Regions from separate parts of the Homo sapiens genome. Here region 1 is linked to region 2. Evidence: fine-mapped expression QTL. Tissue or cell type: whole blood. Region 2 holds a variant in brackets; the other region holds the start of a gene. All regions are shown on one strand. Distances are from middle to middle.

What was found. PIP is the estimated chance that this variant, and not a neighbour inherited with it, causes the effect.
Region 1: it holds the start of ST8SIA1, and the variant in region 2 is fine-mapped to the expression of ST8SIA1 in whole blood (TOPMed, PIP above 0.99).

The regions. Positions count from the first base shown.
Region 1 is chr12:22,330,106-22,338,204 of GRCh38, forward strand. ST8SIA1 (ST8 alpha-N-acetyl-neuraminide alpha-2,8-sialyltransferase 1) reads right to left here and starts at 4,602. Exons shown (of 5, transcript NM_003034.4): 1 at 3,892-4,602. The coding sequence starts at 4,127. It overlaps LOC105369151 (a long non-coding RNA gene), which reads right to left and starts at 3,885. Exons shown (of 2, transcript XR_931426.3): 1 at 2,748-3,885; 2 at 1-1,003.
Region 2 is chr12:22,077,728-22,085,835 of GRCh38, forward strand. It overlaps LOC105369690 (a long non-coding RNA gene), which reads right to left and starts at 4,800. Exons shown (of 5, transcript XR_931423.4): 1 at 4,659-4,800. The variant T/G (reference allele first, on the strand shown) is at 4,866.

The DNA of each region.
Region 1 (8,099 bases), 250 kb after region 2:
CTTTGCTGTTCTCTCTGCCTGGCATATACTTCTATCCTCACCTCTTACCACTATGCCACCCTACCATCCTTGGAGGCTTACTCCAAACACCACCTCCTCTCTGAAACCCGATTTCCCTCCCTTCAGTAGAATTAAATGTCATGTTCTGGGAACATCCCCAGCACTTCACTGGTGTTTCTATTGTTATAACAATCACGTATTAAACAGAGCTATGTGGCAAGCATCATTCCAGGCGCTGTCTATATGCTATCATGTAATTTTCACCACAAACTTGTAAGACATTCTTACAAGCCCCAATTTACAAATGGAGGAACTGAAGCTCTGAGATTGGACTTACCAATGATTGCACAACTAGAAAGGGATACAGCCAGAATTCCAACCATGTTCTGACAGCTCCCAAATCCATAAGGTTTTCACTCTGCTATGTTTCCTGTCTTTGATGGCCCTATTTCCAGTTAGTTAATTATATACATTATCTGTCTTTTCCATGGGATTATAGCAACTCCCTTGAAGACCAGGGCATGTTCATTTTCATAAATGTGGATAATGATATATCAATTTATACAAGATTCTTATGAGGATTAAATGAGACAATACATACTAGCATAGTGTCAGGCAGATAATAAGCACCTAATAACTTGTTAGCTTAATTGTTACTATTATTGTTACCATGTCAGGTGCCATGAATAAAGCCTTGCACATAAATTCTGAATTCAGGTTCATTTCTGAGGAGCAAATGAAATGGGTGAGGATCTGATGGAAGAAACAAACACTGCTTTGGTTTGGCATTTCCCACAGTATCACTTAATCAAAAGCAACAAGAATTAAGAAAGTTTCTATAATAGGATCTATTGATTCCTTTATCTTTCTATCACCACATAAACATTAGGAAAACTTCCTGTTCTATTCAAAACTCTTACAGCTTTCTTACTTTCTTCCTGCCATCTCCTTCGCAGTTTGACAAGGTTCTTCTCTGAGAATTCAGTACATATCAAGTACTGAGCTAGAAGAAGAAAATTACAAAAGTAAATGGAAGCACAGAGGGCAAAATAAAATCTTAAATTTTGGTGTTTATAAACATAGTGAAACACTCCCTTTTCTCTTCACAGAATTTAACCGTATGTTAAGTCATCGTATTTATTTGTGTGTCAATCATCCTCTACTAGGAGGAAAGCTCTTAGAGGAGGCAATCTATCCATCCTATTCACTGCTATCCCCCAGGGCCTAACACATATCTGATGTAGAGTAGTCACTCATGAAATATTGTTTAATTGACTGATTGCAAATGTTTGTATTTATGTATGTATACACATCTATATTTTTATACATACATGACACCATTCCATGATTTGTGAATAAATGCACCTATATCTCAACATATAAGTGCACCTTGTGCATTTGTGTGCATATATCTGTATTTATGCAGAAGATGTTTCAGACTGGAGAAAAACAGATGCTTGTTTGTCAAAGTTGTGTCTCCTTAACATGATAATGGCTTCTGACTGACTGGTCTAATATTTAACAAATAAACACTACTGCCATATACTGACAATCCAAATGTTAAAGAACATTAAATGTGCAGGTAAAAAATAATTAACTCAAACCATGAAACTTCTCCTACCTTTCAAAATGTCTTGTCCCTGTTCATTAGCGTTAAGTGTACATGGCTGGGGAGAGGGGTAGGGACCAATAATGTTTACCTGTAAATCTGGCAGGAGAAACATTCCAAATTCTCATGGGTTGCCCAGATTTCCTTATTTAAGTTGTAACATATACCAGAAATATAATTTATAACAATTATAAGGCAACCATTTTCTGGGTACACAATGTACCAGATACTTGGCATCAGTTTTTATTAAAAATGTAAACCTTCTAACAACTCTGCAATGTAGATAAACAAGAAAGCCAGGACTCAAAAAATATACTAACTTGCCAAAGATTCTCTGCTGTTTATCTAGTCACAGCATACTCAGTGTAGAAATTCAGAATTCTACTCTGAAGCTCAAACTTATTTCAATAAGCAATGGTGCCTTTTACATGGTTTTACAGCCACTAACTTTGAGGGATATGTGTTTAGGTAGTTTTCATAGTGTGTGGATTTTAATAAGTAATTCTCTGCACATAGAGACCAGACCAGATAACAGCCAAACACACTGAAAATTACTCCAGGCTACAGAAAGCAAGGAACAAATGTGTCTCAGAAACTATCAGCCTGTGTGTCTCAGAATTTGAAGCATTTTCCACTTGACTGTATCCTCCAACAAGAAATCTATCCTCTAAGAGGGCTTCATTATTCCTCCTCCTATATTAAAAAAATGGACTCTTTCATTGCAAACCAATGGGAAGTTCTTAACTCATTTCCTTAGATCACTTGAAATGAAAGTGCTTTCTGTCTTTAGGGAAAATAATTGCTGGATGTGATGCCTTTTGCCTGCTCTTGAGTCCCACAATCAATACTGTGAAGGAAAGAAAAAATTAACCCTTAGATACTTTTAGGAAGAGTGAGGTTATTTTTAAATTCAATGATGGTAGAGTTCTAAAAAGGGAGAAGGAAAGTCCTCCCTTCCAAGGAGAATGCAGTTGCCTTCCTCTAAACAAATTGGCTCTGTTATCTTTTTAATCCTCTTTCCAGGAGGAGGCCTGAGAAGGAGATGGAAACCATATGTTTAAAAAGTTTTTAAAAATGTATAGATGCTCCTGAATATTTGTAAATAACTGCAGTGAAAAATGTTTACATTAGAACTCACCTGCCCTTGCACTGATTAGAAAGATCCTCTACAGAGCAGAGGAGATCATTTCCAACCACCCAGACCACTACAATCACAGGAAGAAGCCAACAGCAGCATCTTCAGCCCCAGAGACTAAAGGTGAAAGGGGCACCTCGCAGTGGTGGAAGCACCCGTGTGTTCCCTCAACATGCCTGGGGAGGTGGAGAGGAAGGGGAAGCAGCTCTGCCTTCCCTCCAATCTAACTACACAACCCCTGCTGCCGTAACTTATTTTTAGACATTTAATCTAAAATTCCCAGAAAGGAAGCGGATCTACAACCTCTGAGTGATCCTCAGAGTTCTGATTTCCAACCTGGCTTGGGCATTTTGTTTGTTTTCTGACTTCAGGTGCCTACTTAAAGTACATCTCCCATCTTCCAGAGGCATCCACAGCCTAAGCCAATAAAAAGAGCTGGGAGCTTTGGAGCTTTAAGTGATGAAAAATCCAGCACCCACAGGTCAAAAGTAATGACCTTGGGGAAGTTACTCATCCTTCTAAAGAATCAATTTGTGGTCAACAAGATGAGATAATAATACTAGACAGCTGTTCGAGATTTCAACACAAAAATTGCACAGTATCGTCTCTTAGTAGACGTCAGTCAGTACTATGCACTTGCTGTGGGCACACTGCGCAAAGCTGCGGGATCCGTCCATGTTTCCACTGCCCATCACTCCGACGTTGGGGACTTATGTTACCGACTGTGCACTCCACCTCGGGGAGATGCCTTTTACCTGCTTCTTGTTCCCTACAGCTTCAAATGTCTGCAGAGCCCAAGAGGTAAATTCTTATTAAGTGCAAGAGACTAAGTTATCCTGGGTTCTCCTTCCCTCTGTTTTGTTTATCCGTAAATTGTTAAATAAAACTCCGCTTTGGGAAGAAATGCGTCGAGTCTTTACATGCGCAAAGCAGGTGTCTGCACATCTCTGGGGATCAGGGGTGGGGAAGGAACCCTGACTAAAGTCTCCAGGTTGGGAATGGCACAAATGGAGGGAAAGGACATGGAAGAGCGGATGAAAGGGATGCCTCTGCGAGACGGTGCAAGGCGGTCCTCGCCGGTGACCCTGTCCTCTGCACTCGGGGAGGAAAGGACGCTAGAGGGGAGGAGCCGCGAGGGCAGGAGTACCTGAACGCTCTGGCCGCGGTCTGGTTCCTCCTCCACGCCGTGCCCTGTTGCAGCACCCCCTGCACGATCTCTTTCTCGTTGGGCAGCCGGTAGACGGGGAAGATGTAGAGCCAACAGAGGACCACGACACAGAGGGCACTGGCTCCCATGGGCAGCCGGGTCCGCGGGAACTTCCACGCCAGTACAGCCATGGCCCCTCTGGACGTTTGTCGCCGGGCCCGCCCGCAGGGGCTCATCGCAGCCCCGGCGTCCCAGGGGCGGGGGCCGGGGCCTCAGCACAAAGCTAGGCGAAGTGGCAGCGGAGGGTCCCCCACCGCCAGCCCCCCATGCACACACACCTTTGGTTCTCTTACTTGCAAACGCACGCACGCTTCTTCGGCCCCGTCGGCCCCAAAGGTCAGCGCAAGGATTTTTTCAAATGCAACTTTTCCAAGGATTTCTTTCTAGGGGAAGTGGCTGGGGGTGAAGTCACGATCTATGGCCATGGTCGCTTCCCCTGCAGAAGGCGGGCGCTGGGGTCTCCGAGTGCGCAGAGAGCGGCGGCGGCGAGTCGCTCCCGCCGGTTCTGCAGCATCACGGTCGCCCTCGGCGAGGGTCCGGGAGAAGGCTCGGCTCCCTCCTAAACATGTGGCCCGTGGCGTCCCCTTGTCCCCTCCGAGCGATGCTCCTGCGCCCTTCGCCGCCTCCCGCGCTGCTGCGCCGCCAGGCAACCCCCCCCCCCCCACCCCGCCCCGAGACGCGCTCTCTGCGCCGCACCAAGTCCTTGGAAATTTCCACGGCGGCCCGGGACCGCTATCCTGCCCCGGGCTCCTCCGCCTCGCCCGCCGGGACCCTCGCTCCCCACCCCTCCCGGAGAAGAAAAGAACTCGCTCTCATCAGTTAATTCAGCGGCGCGCCGCAGCCTTCCGCTGCGCCCCGGACTTCGCAGACAAACGCCCGGGGATTGGTGGAAATCAAGGTCTCCCCCTCCCTCCCCCACCCGCAAAATTGCCTCCTTCGACCCGATCCGAGCCGCGACACTCGCCCAGAGCGCGCACCCCTCACTCGTGCCCTTGTTCTTTGGAGATAACGGCAGACAATAAAAACCAACAGCCCCCCGCCAATAGAAATATATCAGTCCCTGAGTGTGGCGGAGACTGGCTAATATCCTGATCCTTCGACAAGCGGCCGGTGTGCCCAGGCTGTCACCCTGCTGCCGTCACCCTAGTCTTTCTCTAGCTGGTTGGATATTAACCCGCAGCCAGGCGCGAGGAGGCTGGCGGAGATTTATTCCTTCCTGGGCCCCCACCCCCATTAGCCGGTCCCGGAGCCGCGGCCCGTGTGTGTGCGCGCGCGCCCGCACACACACACACACACACACACACACACACACACACACACACGTTCACGGGCGCAAGCGAGCGCGCGCACGAGGAGGTGCGTGCACTCCGGGGTCCTCCGCCTCGCCTCCTCCCTGAAAGGAAGTGCTGCATCCAGATGTGCAGGCAGCTGGTGCCCAAACACTAGACCTCAAGATGTCACATTGCCTTGGAGGCGCGCGGCCTTTTAGATTAAAGGACCGTTGGTTCTTAGACGTCCTTCTTGCCCTTCTTGCTTGTGATAAGCGATAAGCTTATCGCAACCCCGACCTTGGAAAAGCACCACCCGCCTTGACCCACCGAGCCGAGAGAGTCGCTGTTAGCCATTTCTGCTCGCCCCGGCGGCCGACGCATAGCTCGGGTACCTCCTAGCGGTCGCCTATTCTATTTGCTTAAGCATCTCGTCAAGCATAAAGTGTGCAAGGACAAAGAAGAAACCTGGTCAGCTTAGTCATCACGAAAACAAAATCTAAGGCTATAACTCCATTTGTTCAGCCGACCAGGCTGCGGTGTCTGGTACCTTTGTCTAGCATCCGTCTCCACTGAGAGGTGGAACTTGAGAAGTTGATGCAAAGTTATTTACCAAAAGCGAAGTAGCATCCCAGATGACCACTTTAGTGTCATTTTCTCAACAATACTGTGCTCTTAGTTGAGTGACCTACTGCCCTCCACCGGCAGGCATGCCCCAGAAATCTCTGTCCTACTTAGGTAAATCAGTAGAGACAGGGGAAACCTTGAAATCCCAGTCACATCTTACCACAGTGGAGGCTGATACAGATTCTTTAAAATGAAGATCATCTTAAGTCCTGCAAAGTAACCAGCCAACTCTCTTCTATCCTGGAAAAGGGGAAGGGAAGGGGGAGCTTTTCCTACTTGCCTGGGCTTTGGATAAATCATCTGCCATCTTTGATCTTATAATTTAAGTAAAACACAAACCATTCCCATTTTTCTTCCTCAAGTTCAAGGACTATTTGTAGAGTAAATAACAAAGAAATAAACTGACAAACAAAACTAGGGCATATTACAGTTATGAAGGGGCTATGTAAATGTTTCCCTATATAATATCATAAGAATGCATTAAAGTCATGCTTTACATCAAAAGATCTGTGTGACACAATGTGCTGTTTTTCTTTCTTCTGCAAACTAAGAATTCTCTTACCTTGGTGGGCTTCTGCCCACCCAACAATCCAAACTTATTCCCTGCTTTTTCTTAACATGAGCACCAAATCTAATCAGGTCATCGCTCTCACCCTTCCAAGTCACACTACATTGGTCCGTTCTCACATTACTATAAAGAATACCACTGAGACTGGGTAATTTGTAAAGGAAAGAGGTTTAATTGACTCACAGTTCCACATGGCTGAGGAGGCCTCAGGAAACTTACAATCCTGGTGGAAGGCAAAGTGGCATGTCTTACTTGGTGGCAGGCAAGAGGGAGAATGTGTGTGTAGGATGAACTGTCAAACACTTATAAAACCATCAGATCTCGTGAGAACTCGCTATCATGAGAACAGCCTGGGGGAAACAGCCCCCACGATCCAATCACCTCTCACCAGGTCCCACCCTGGACACAGGGGGGTTACGGAGATTACAATTCAAGATAAGATTTGGGTGGGGACACAGAGCCAAACTATATCACACACAGGTCTCAGTTCTGTCACAGTGTTGTGATCCGCTCATGTGATGTGTGTTTGTTTTTGTTTTCTTTTTCTCCCCATGTATAAATCCAGTGCATTATTCAAGACCAAGCCAAGTTATCTAGAAAGTTCTCATTCAATAATGTGTTCCCAGGACACCTAAAACACAGACTTTATGAGAACTCAATAAATATTTGTGGTATCTGCTTCTACTCTCTTTGACCTCCTGTTCTGATGTCATAGTATTTGCTGGCTCTGACTGATGATTAAACACTTAGTTGTGTTGTGTTGTCTTGTATTGCTAGTATTTTTCATATATAACTATGTCTCACCAACTAGGCAGGAAGGGGATTTAGTTTTATGTATCAAATGAAAAGCCTGTGCTTTTGATCAAATTAGGACTCCACAGGGCATGGCTAAGTGTCTAGGAGAAGAGCAAGAACAATATTTCACATTTTCTTCATGTTCCTCCAGGTATCAACTCAGGCACTTCAACAAATAATTGTTGCTTGGTTTTATAATGAGATCCTCAAACTTATTCAGTCTATTGCCAAGGCATCACTGTTTAAGGAAAAGTATGAACCCCCAAGTTTTAATGTTTTAAATAAAATATTTTAATTGATATTTAGCCATCTTGTTTGTATGACTTATAGTAAGTAGCTTAGGTATTCTTTTATACTTCTGCATCTGAGTATGCTTAGCGGACACAAACAGGATTTCCTCAGGGACTAAACAACTTTTAAAACTCTATAAATGTGTAGTAGAAAAATGTAAAGGCAGGAGTCCAGATTAAACAGAATTGTCAGTGATTTGAGATAAAATTTTAAAAGGCCAATCTTCAGTCTCTGCTCAAGTTCTTCTTGTCAGAATGGCTTGGAATGGCCAGTCAAAAGCATAAAATGATGCCTGTTTCACAACCAATTACAACACCAAGGTAAATAAGGTTGTAGATTGAGAAAGGTTATAAATATAGTTTATCTGAATAAATGCATTTATTTATCTCCACTCCCTATTGTGACCTCACTAAAAGAAGAGTAAAGGAGTAAAAGTGAAAAAGATTCAGAAGAACAAGAAAAAACGAAGGAATACAAAAGCAGACAAAGGATGTCAAAAAGTTCACAAGCAGGAAAGCAATTAAACAAGTGTTAACTGACTTATCAGGAGAGAGAAAGGTCTGGGCCTTCAAGTAACTCTGTGTGTGTGTGTGTGTGTG
Region 2 (8,108 bases):
CACCTCACCTGGTAGTGAAACTGGGCTGACAAAGTTAGCTCACCCAGGGCATGAAGTACTTCCCCATATGAGCCACAAAAATTGTAACCAAAACACAAGTCCAGTCACTCCCCACTCCACATTTTGTAACCAAAACACAAGTCCAGTCACTCCAATTAACAGGAGCAAGGTATAAAGAAAGTGACATTTTATTCCAAAGCTTGCTTAGGGGAAGAGGAGCAGGATCTTGTCTTTATGGGTACCACCTCACTTTTGGAGCAGAAAGTGGGGTGCTTTTAAAGGGGGCCCAGCATGCTGGCATGAATGACATGCAGAGGAGTCAGTGAGCAGGTGGGGGGTCTGCATACTAGCCTCGGTGCCTTATCTACCGGGTGGTCAAGCTGGTAACTGCTGGTCCCTTTGTGGACAAGACTAGGTTGTAAAAGCAGCAGAAAATTCTCCAGGTGGGAGAGAGTTTCACAGTGGAAATACTTTAGGTAGTAGATGGACTGTTGTTTCTTTAGGCAGCCTCCTGGTAGGAGAGTTTCACTCTGGAGCTTCTAACAACCTAGTTAAATAAACTTGCCCTCTAGGGAGTGTCTGGTGAAGAGGAGGTAAAGGCTATAACTGCATTTCTAAAGACCTAAGTAGGAAGTGGGGAAAAGAAGGAGAGCGAGAAGAAGAAAGATAGTAAAAAACTATCTCTTAGAAAAATGAGGGTACACAGTTACACTATGATTAATAAAAAAAGGGATGGAAAAAAGTACACAACATGCAAAATCAGATAGATAATGTCAATACAGACAGAAACTATGAGAAAGAATCAAAAGGAAATGCTAGAAATCAAAGAAACAGTAGCAGAAATGAGGAATGCCTTTTGGTGGTTTATCAGTAGACTTGAGATAGCTAAGGAAAGAATAGGTAAACTTGAATATTGGTCAAATTTTTTTTTTTTTTTTCTGAAACGGGGTCTCACTCTGTTGCCCAGGCTGGAGTGCAGTGGCGTGATCTTGGCTCACTGCAACCTCCACCTCCCAGGTTCAAGTGATTCTCCTGCCTCAGCCTCCCAAGTAACTGGGATTACAGGCACGCACCACCATGCCTGGCTAATTTTTGTATTTTTAGTAGAGACGGGGTTTCACCATGTTGGTCAGCTGGTCTCGAACTCCTGACCTCGTGATCCACCCGCCTCGGCCTCCCAAAGTGCTGGGTTACAGGCGTGAGCCACTGCGCCCGGCCAGAATATTGCTCAATTTTAAAAGTTCCCAAACTGAAAAACAGAAGGAAAATAAATTTTAAAAAAGAATACAATATGCAAGAACTGTGGGCCAATATCAAAAGGTATAACTGAATACCAGAAGCATAAGAAATAGAACAGGACAGAAGAAATATTTGAAATAATACATGGCTAAGAACTCCCAAAACTAATGACAAACACCAAAGCCAACCTTTCTGTGGCTAAGCTTCCTGGCTCTAATTGAAGATAATAACGGTATCATCAAACTACAAATCCAGGAAGCTCAGAGAAGTCCAAAACAAACAATTAAAAATAAAATCCTACAACCAGGCATTTCATATTCAAACTGCAGCAAATCAAAGACAAAGAAAATCTTGAAGGAAGCCAGAAGGAGAAAAAAAAAAAAACAAACCAGAACTAAGGATACAGATTATATCAGATTTGGCTTCAGAAACACGTGAGCAAGAAGAGTGAGGTGAAATCTTTGAAATGCTGAAACAAACCCTGTCAACCTATATTTCTATATTCAGCAAAATTTTCCTTCAACGGTGAAAAATAAAGCCTTTTGTGGAGAAAACTGAGGGATTTCATTGCCAGCAGACCTGCCCTGCAAAAATGTTAAAGATATTCTTCAGAGAGAAAAAAAAATGATATAGGTCAAAAATTATACAAAGAAAAGCATTAGAAAAGGAACAAGTGAAATTAAAATAATATTTTTAATTGATCTAAAAGATAGCTATTTAAAGTAATAATAGTAACAATGTATAGGGTGACTATAGCATATGGACAAGTGAAATAATTGACACCAATGTCACAAGGAATGGGAGGAATGAATCGGGAGTAGTCTTATAAAGTTATATAATGTTATTTGAAGGTGGACTTATTTTAAAATATATATTGTAAACCCTAGGGATATTACTAAATTTTTTATAAAAGATATATGATATACCAAGTAAAGATATAAAATCAAATCATACAAAATGCTTAATTAACCCCAGAGAAGTCAGAAAAACAGCAGGAGAAAGAAATAAAGAACAAATGCAATGAACAGAAAACAATTACAAAGATGGTAAATTTTAATGCAACTATATCAATAATCCCTTTAAATATGAATGTTCTAAACACACCAGAGACTGTCAGGTTGAATTAAATTAAAAAAAAAAACTAGACTTACCTGTGTGCTGGCTACCACAAACCTACTTTAAATTTAAAGACTCAGAAAAGTTAAAAACAAAATGATAGGAAGAGAAATTCCATGGTAAATCGATCAAACGACAGTATCATATGCTCTGTCAATTATCAATTACTATATAACAAATAGCTTCAAAGCACGTTTACTTGAAAAAATAACTACTTTTTCATAATTCTGTGGATCAACAATTTGGGCTAAGGTAAGTAGAGTTGTTTTCATGGTCTCACTCTGTGGTTGCAGTCAGTTGATGGTGGGAATCGATGAACAGTCCAAGTCAATTTCCCTCACATATATCTACTGGTGTCTGGGCTGTTCTCTTCTTGCAGTCTTTCAACTTTAAGGAAACTAGTTTAAGTGTCTTAACGTGACAGTCTCTGAGCAGCTGGAAGGTGAGATTGGATGCTGCAACACTTTTTGATAACTTCCCCAGAAGTCACACAATGTTACTTCAGCCTCAATTTTACTGGTCAAAGTGAGTCAAGTTACTGACCATCCAGCTCAGATCAAGGGGTCAGAAGATGGAGTCTACTTTCTAATGGAAGGAGTTTAATTTTTAATGCATTATATATGTTGATACATCTGGGTTTGGAAATTTGAGAAGGTGAAAAGAGAAAGATCTTTTTGAGGGTTTTTATTCTAATTATTTTGCATTTTGGAATTTGGACAAGTTTAGCCAACCTTTCCGTGGCTAAGCTTCTTTGCTCTAATTGAAGATAATAACAGTATCACCTCACAGGATTGTGAAGATTCAATGAGATAATATATATAGCATGTCTAGAGGAGTACCTGGCTCGTGTAGGGCCTCTAAATGTTTATTATTATTGGCAATAAATGAACTTAGTTTCTAGCTTCAACATTGTCACGAACTAGCTAAGGTATGCTTTTCAAGACATTTAACACCCACAAGCCAGTTTATTTGACTATAATCTGAGGCGCTTATAATAGATGATCTCTATTGTCCCTTTTAATTGTCCCTTCTAATTCTACAGATGCAAATGTACTAATGTTTTACTTAGAAGAAATATTTCACATAGAAGAAACATATATCATATTTATGATTAACATGAGCATTTAAGGCTCTGGGGATGATTGGCTACAAATTATAGTGCAGAAGTCTTAAATTTCTTAGTACATCAGTGAACTTAGAAAAGAAATATTCTTTATTATTATGTATGTATTTATTTGTAGAGATGAGGTCTCACTACATTACCAGGCTGGTCTTGAACTCCTGTGCTGGAGCCATCCATCCGCCTTGGCCTCCTGAAGAGCTGGGAGCAGAGGCATGAGCCACTGCACCCAGCCAATACTCTGTATTAAACCATGATTCATTGAAGGGGAAGAGCTATCAAAAGTAAGTAATTTTATTTGTGAAGATTGTTTACCTTTTCTCAATTTAACAATGAATAGCATTTAGCATGTCAAAGATTATTACATTTCCTGAAATTGTTAGGTTGGTGCAAATGTGATTGTGGTTAATGGCAAAAACCACAATTACTTTTGCCCCAACCTAATAAAAAGCCAAATAAGGCACAAGCTCACCACCTCGGCAAACAAATATAGGGGAATGGGATGATATGAGTCTGGCGAGGTGAATAAACAGAGGCCAGATTGTACTGGTTTTTGTGAGTTACATTAAGACATTTTTGCTTTATCCTGAAAATAAGGGTAGAGAGAGACCCTTAAAGGGCTTGAAGCAGAAAAATCTTTTCAAGTGGAGGTGAAATTTGAGCTGGATCTTAAACTAGAAAATTTCATTGGTGTCAAAGGACAATATCAAAAAAAATGGAGTTAACGTTTGTGTTCAGATAATGGAAGAGGTCGTTATCTGTATAGGCCTGAAAGGATCTACAAGGTAATGGTAAGAAATGAGACCAGAAACACAGGACCAAATTGGAGATGACCTTCAAAAGAAAATGCTTGATTCCTGTGTTGACTTTGAAATGCTTAATTTCCTTCGAATCCAATCTATTCCACTACCACTTTACTTGTCTACTTTATGCTTTCTGTTCCCTTTGTAAAAGTCTCAGTGACTCCATGCTGCCCACAGAATAAGGTAAACAATTCCCAGTCCAAGTGTTATAGTTCTCTTTTGTATCCTTCCTGCCACTCCGCCCTGATTATGAAACCAGCAGACAGCCAGGCGTTAGCCCTCCTCTCCTTCCCCCAACCCCTGCCCTTTCTTCTCTTAAAGCCCTCTCTTCCTTCACAGCCTTAAGTATATATCGAAGTGTTCATTGGCTTAATACTTACCTTCAAGTTACAGAAGATCGAAAAGCCTGTTTATTTTGTCGGCATCATATTGCGTCAGTGTGGTGGACGCTGTGTTGGGCCGTAGAGCTCACCCTTGAGCCTGGAGGTCTTATCCCCCTCAGCTGCTGGGAGTGTTGTCAGTAGACAAGCCTCAGCTGTCAGGCCTCTTCAGCGCTGCCTCACCTAAGGTTACTCCCTTTCTGGGAG[T/G]AGCCCACATCCAGTGACTGGATGGAGGCAGAGGATAAAAGCCCTGCTTCATTACCCCAAGAATGGACAACAGCTGAGAGGCCAGGCTAGCTTCAGCGCTCTCTGTGAGTCAACCGAGGCTGTATAGGAACCATCTCCTCTCTCTCTCCACAATCCTCCTCCTTCGTTTTCCATCTACAAGTGCGATCCCAGGAGCCTGCCTTCACAAACATCATGGACATTAATCTCCCTCCCCAAGCCTGCTTCTCAACCCAGGACACCAGGAAATATTTTTGAATGAGCAAGTGAAAGAATGTCCAAAATATCCTGTACCTTTTGGGATGGGTACTGGCTAAAGTAATTACTGTTATCTGAATTGCCAAGCTAAGCATGTTAATGATTTTCTAATTATTTAAAGGACCATGTGTGAAGTCTTAATAATCTCTGTTGTACTCTCCTGCATTTGGTCATTGGTTCTTTGCTATATACTGATGCAAATTACTTTTTCCAAGTTTAAAAGCTTTTTTTTTTTTTTTTTTTTTTTTTTTTTAGGAATGTGTCACCTTTGATAACCTGGTGCTTTTATCTGCCTGAACTGGTTGGGAAAGTTCTACTAAATACAGTACTAAAGAAAGTTGGTTTGTCCACATTTCATTGGTGACATTCCCAGTGTAGAACCTTTTCATGCTTTGTTATTGAATAGCTCTCAAAATTTAAAGTTGATGCAATATTATTTGTATGCTGATGAAAATACTTGATGTATTTTTAAAATTTCAGTGGTTGACATTTTGGCCACTGGGTGTCATCACAGATCTAGGTTTTAAAATGTGCAGTTGTCACTTGCTGACTGAAATTAACTAATAGAGTCTGATGAGGCTTAATGGTACATCTTCATCATTTGACCTTCATACATTGAGTATCAATCTCCACTATAGGAAATTGTTTATAAAGTACAATTTGGATACTTTTTAGTCTTTCTTTACAACACATCACATGGATAGAAGGAAAATTTCTTCTAACAATGTCTGGAGTGAGCCTTGAGTGGGGAAGTGTGGTGGGAAGGCTGAGATAGAAAGAGGACACGTAAATGATTAAGCTACTGCCTTACTAGAGGACCAGCGCCAACCGAAAAGAAAGATGTATTCCCAGCCTGGTGCGGTGGCTCAAGCCTGTAATCCCAGCGCTTTGGGAGGCCGAGGCAGGTGGATCACTTAAGGCCAGGGCTGTGAGACCAGCCTGGCCAACATGACGAAACCCCATCTCTACTAAAAATACAAAAACAATTAGCCAGGCATGGTGGCGCACGCCTCTAATCTCAGCTGCTTGGGAGTCTGAGGCACAAGAATCGCTTGAATCCGGAGGCAGAGGTTGCAGTGAGCCGAGATCGTGCCACTGCACTCCAGCCTGGGTAACAGAGCAAGACTGTCTCAAAACACACACACACACACACACACACACACACACACACACGTATTCCCTAAGCTACCCAGATCTATCACCTGGTTACCTCAGGCCATTACCATGACCTCTATCTTAATTTCTTTTAATCCTCACAACCTCTATAAAGCACTTTTATTTCATTTATTTTACAGGTGTGGAAATTGAGGCACAGAAAGGTTAATGATTATACCCAGGGCCAGACACTAGGTGCTAGATCCAAAATTTAAGACAGGGAACATTCCCAAGGGTAGCAGATTATACCTTGGCGAAGGCTTAGGCAGTGTTTCCTCAAAGATGGTCCCTCAACCACTTTCATCAAAATCATATAGTAATTGCTAAAATATATATTCCAGCACCTTCCCAGTGCTACTAAATCAAAATTTCTGGGATAACGTCTGGGAATTGGCATGTTAGTAAAATTCCATCAGATGACTTTTATGCACACTGAATTGTGAGAATCTATTAGAGGAATGAAATTGTGAAGGCCCCCTTTTCTGGAAAGGAAGGAGAGAGAGCAGCCCTCTGAAAGCACAGCAGGATGGAATCCAGGCTCAGGAACCATCCTATAGTCTTTTTAATAGGTACTCCGTGTGCATTGGAGACTTTCTTCCTGATTACCAACAGGCCTCAGGTGGCCTCATCCCGCCCACCTGCCTCCAGACATACACCTGTTCGTTGGAAGAGACTCTAACTCACTCAAGTCACTGTGGGGAGCTTCCAGCACATTCAGATGCCTAGAATAACCCAGACCAATCAAACCAGTGTCTTTTGGTATGAGGCCCAGATAATTGCTATTAAAAATATTTTTCCCCTGTGATTCTCATGTGGAGCCGGAGTTGACTACTACTGTTCTTGAGCAACAATTCCCAAATGGAATTTTAAACAATTACTTCAGAGGTAATTAGCATGCTGATATTTTGCAAAATGTGCTTTGAGAAATGGTCTAAAAGATATGAATGTACAACTGGGAAAAGAATGCCAATGAAGTTAAAAAAGTTGGACTATGACCCCTCTAGGCAACATTAAACTAAGGCTGGTTTTGTGGCTCTGGAGACTGGGCAGCTTTGGACCATAAAGAGGGTGAGGGATCTGTCAAGGAGCCGTCAAGTTCAGCCATAGTCTCTCTGCTCATGCCTGATCCACCTGGCCAGAGGGCCATATTTTGCAAAAGATGAGACCCAGCTGGCTATGTGGGCATGCTGGACACATGCCCACCAGAACAATTGTACATTAGGTGTACCTATTGTGTCTGAGGAAACATTGCTTACCTATTGCAGCCTCTGAGGCTTCATTTTGAGCCCCATTCCTGGGTCCCCCAACACACAGATTCATATCTGCAGACCTCTATCGTCACACTTTTCTTATTTAATTGTCACCCTTCACTTCTGTATGGAGGCTCAGAAGAGATGACCCCATGTGGCTTAATCATCAGTATTTTCAGAGTTTGGTACAGCTCCTGGAGTCCCTTCTAAAGGACTTCCTATCCTTCCTTCATCACTGTAAAAAATAGTGGGATAATTCTTCAAAATGAAACCCCTTTGTGCCTGCTTAGCAGAAAACCTGAAGTACCTATGAGAGCCAGAGTAGATGACTGTGGCTGGGGAGTGACCTCACATCTCTTTATCCTGTTCCATACACTTGCACTGCATTCCTTATTCTCTGTGTTTCCAAGGGGTGGTGTCCCTGAGGGAGGCATTTCAGGGCGTGGAAATGGTACTGACCTGGATGGGCCCTCAAGGGGTCTTTCTGTACTACTTCCTCATTTTATGGAAATAAATATATTACTTCTTAAGTTTACTTCAAGTTTCATGTCTTGTATTTTAT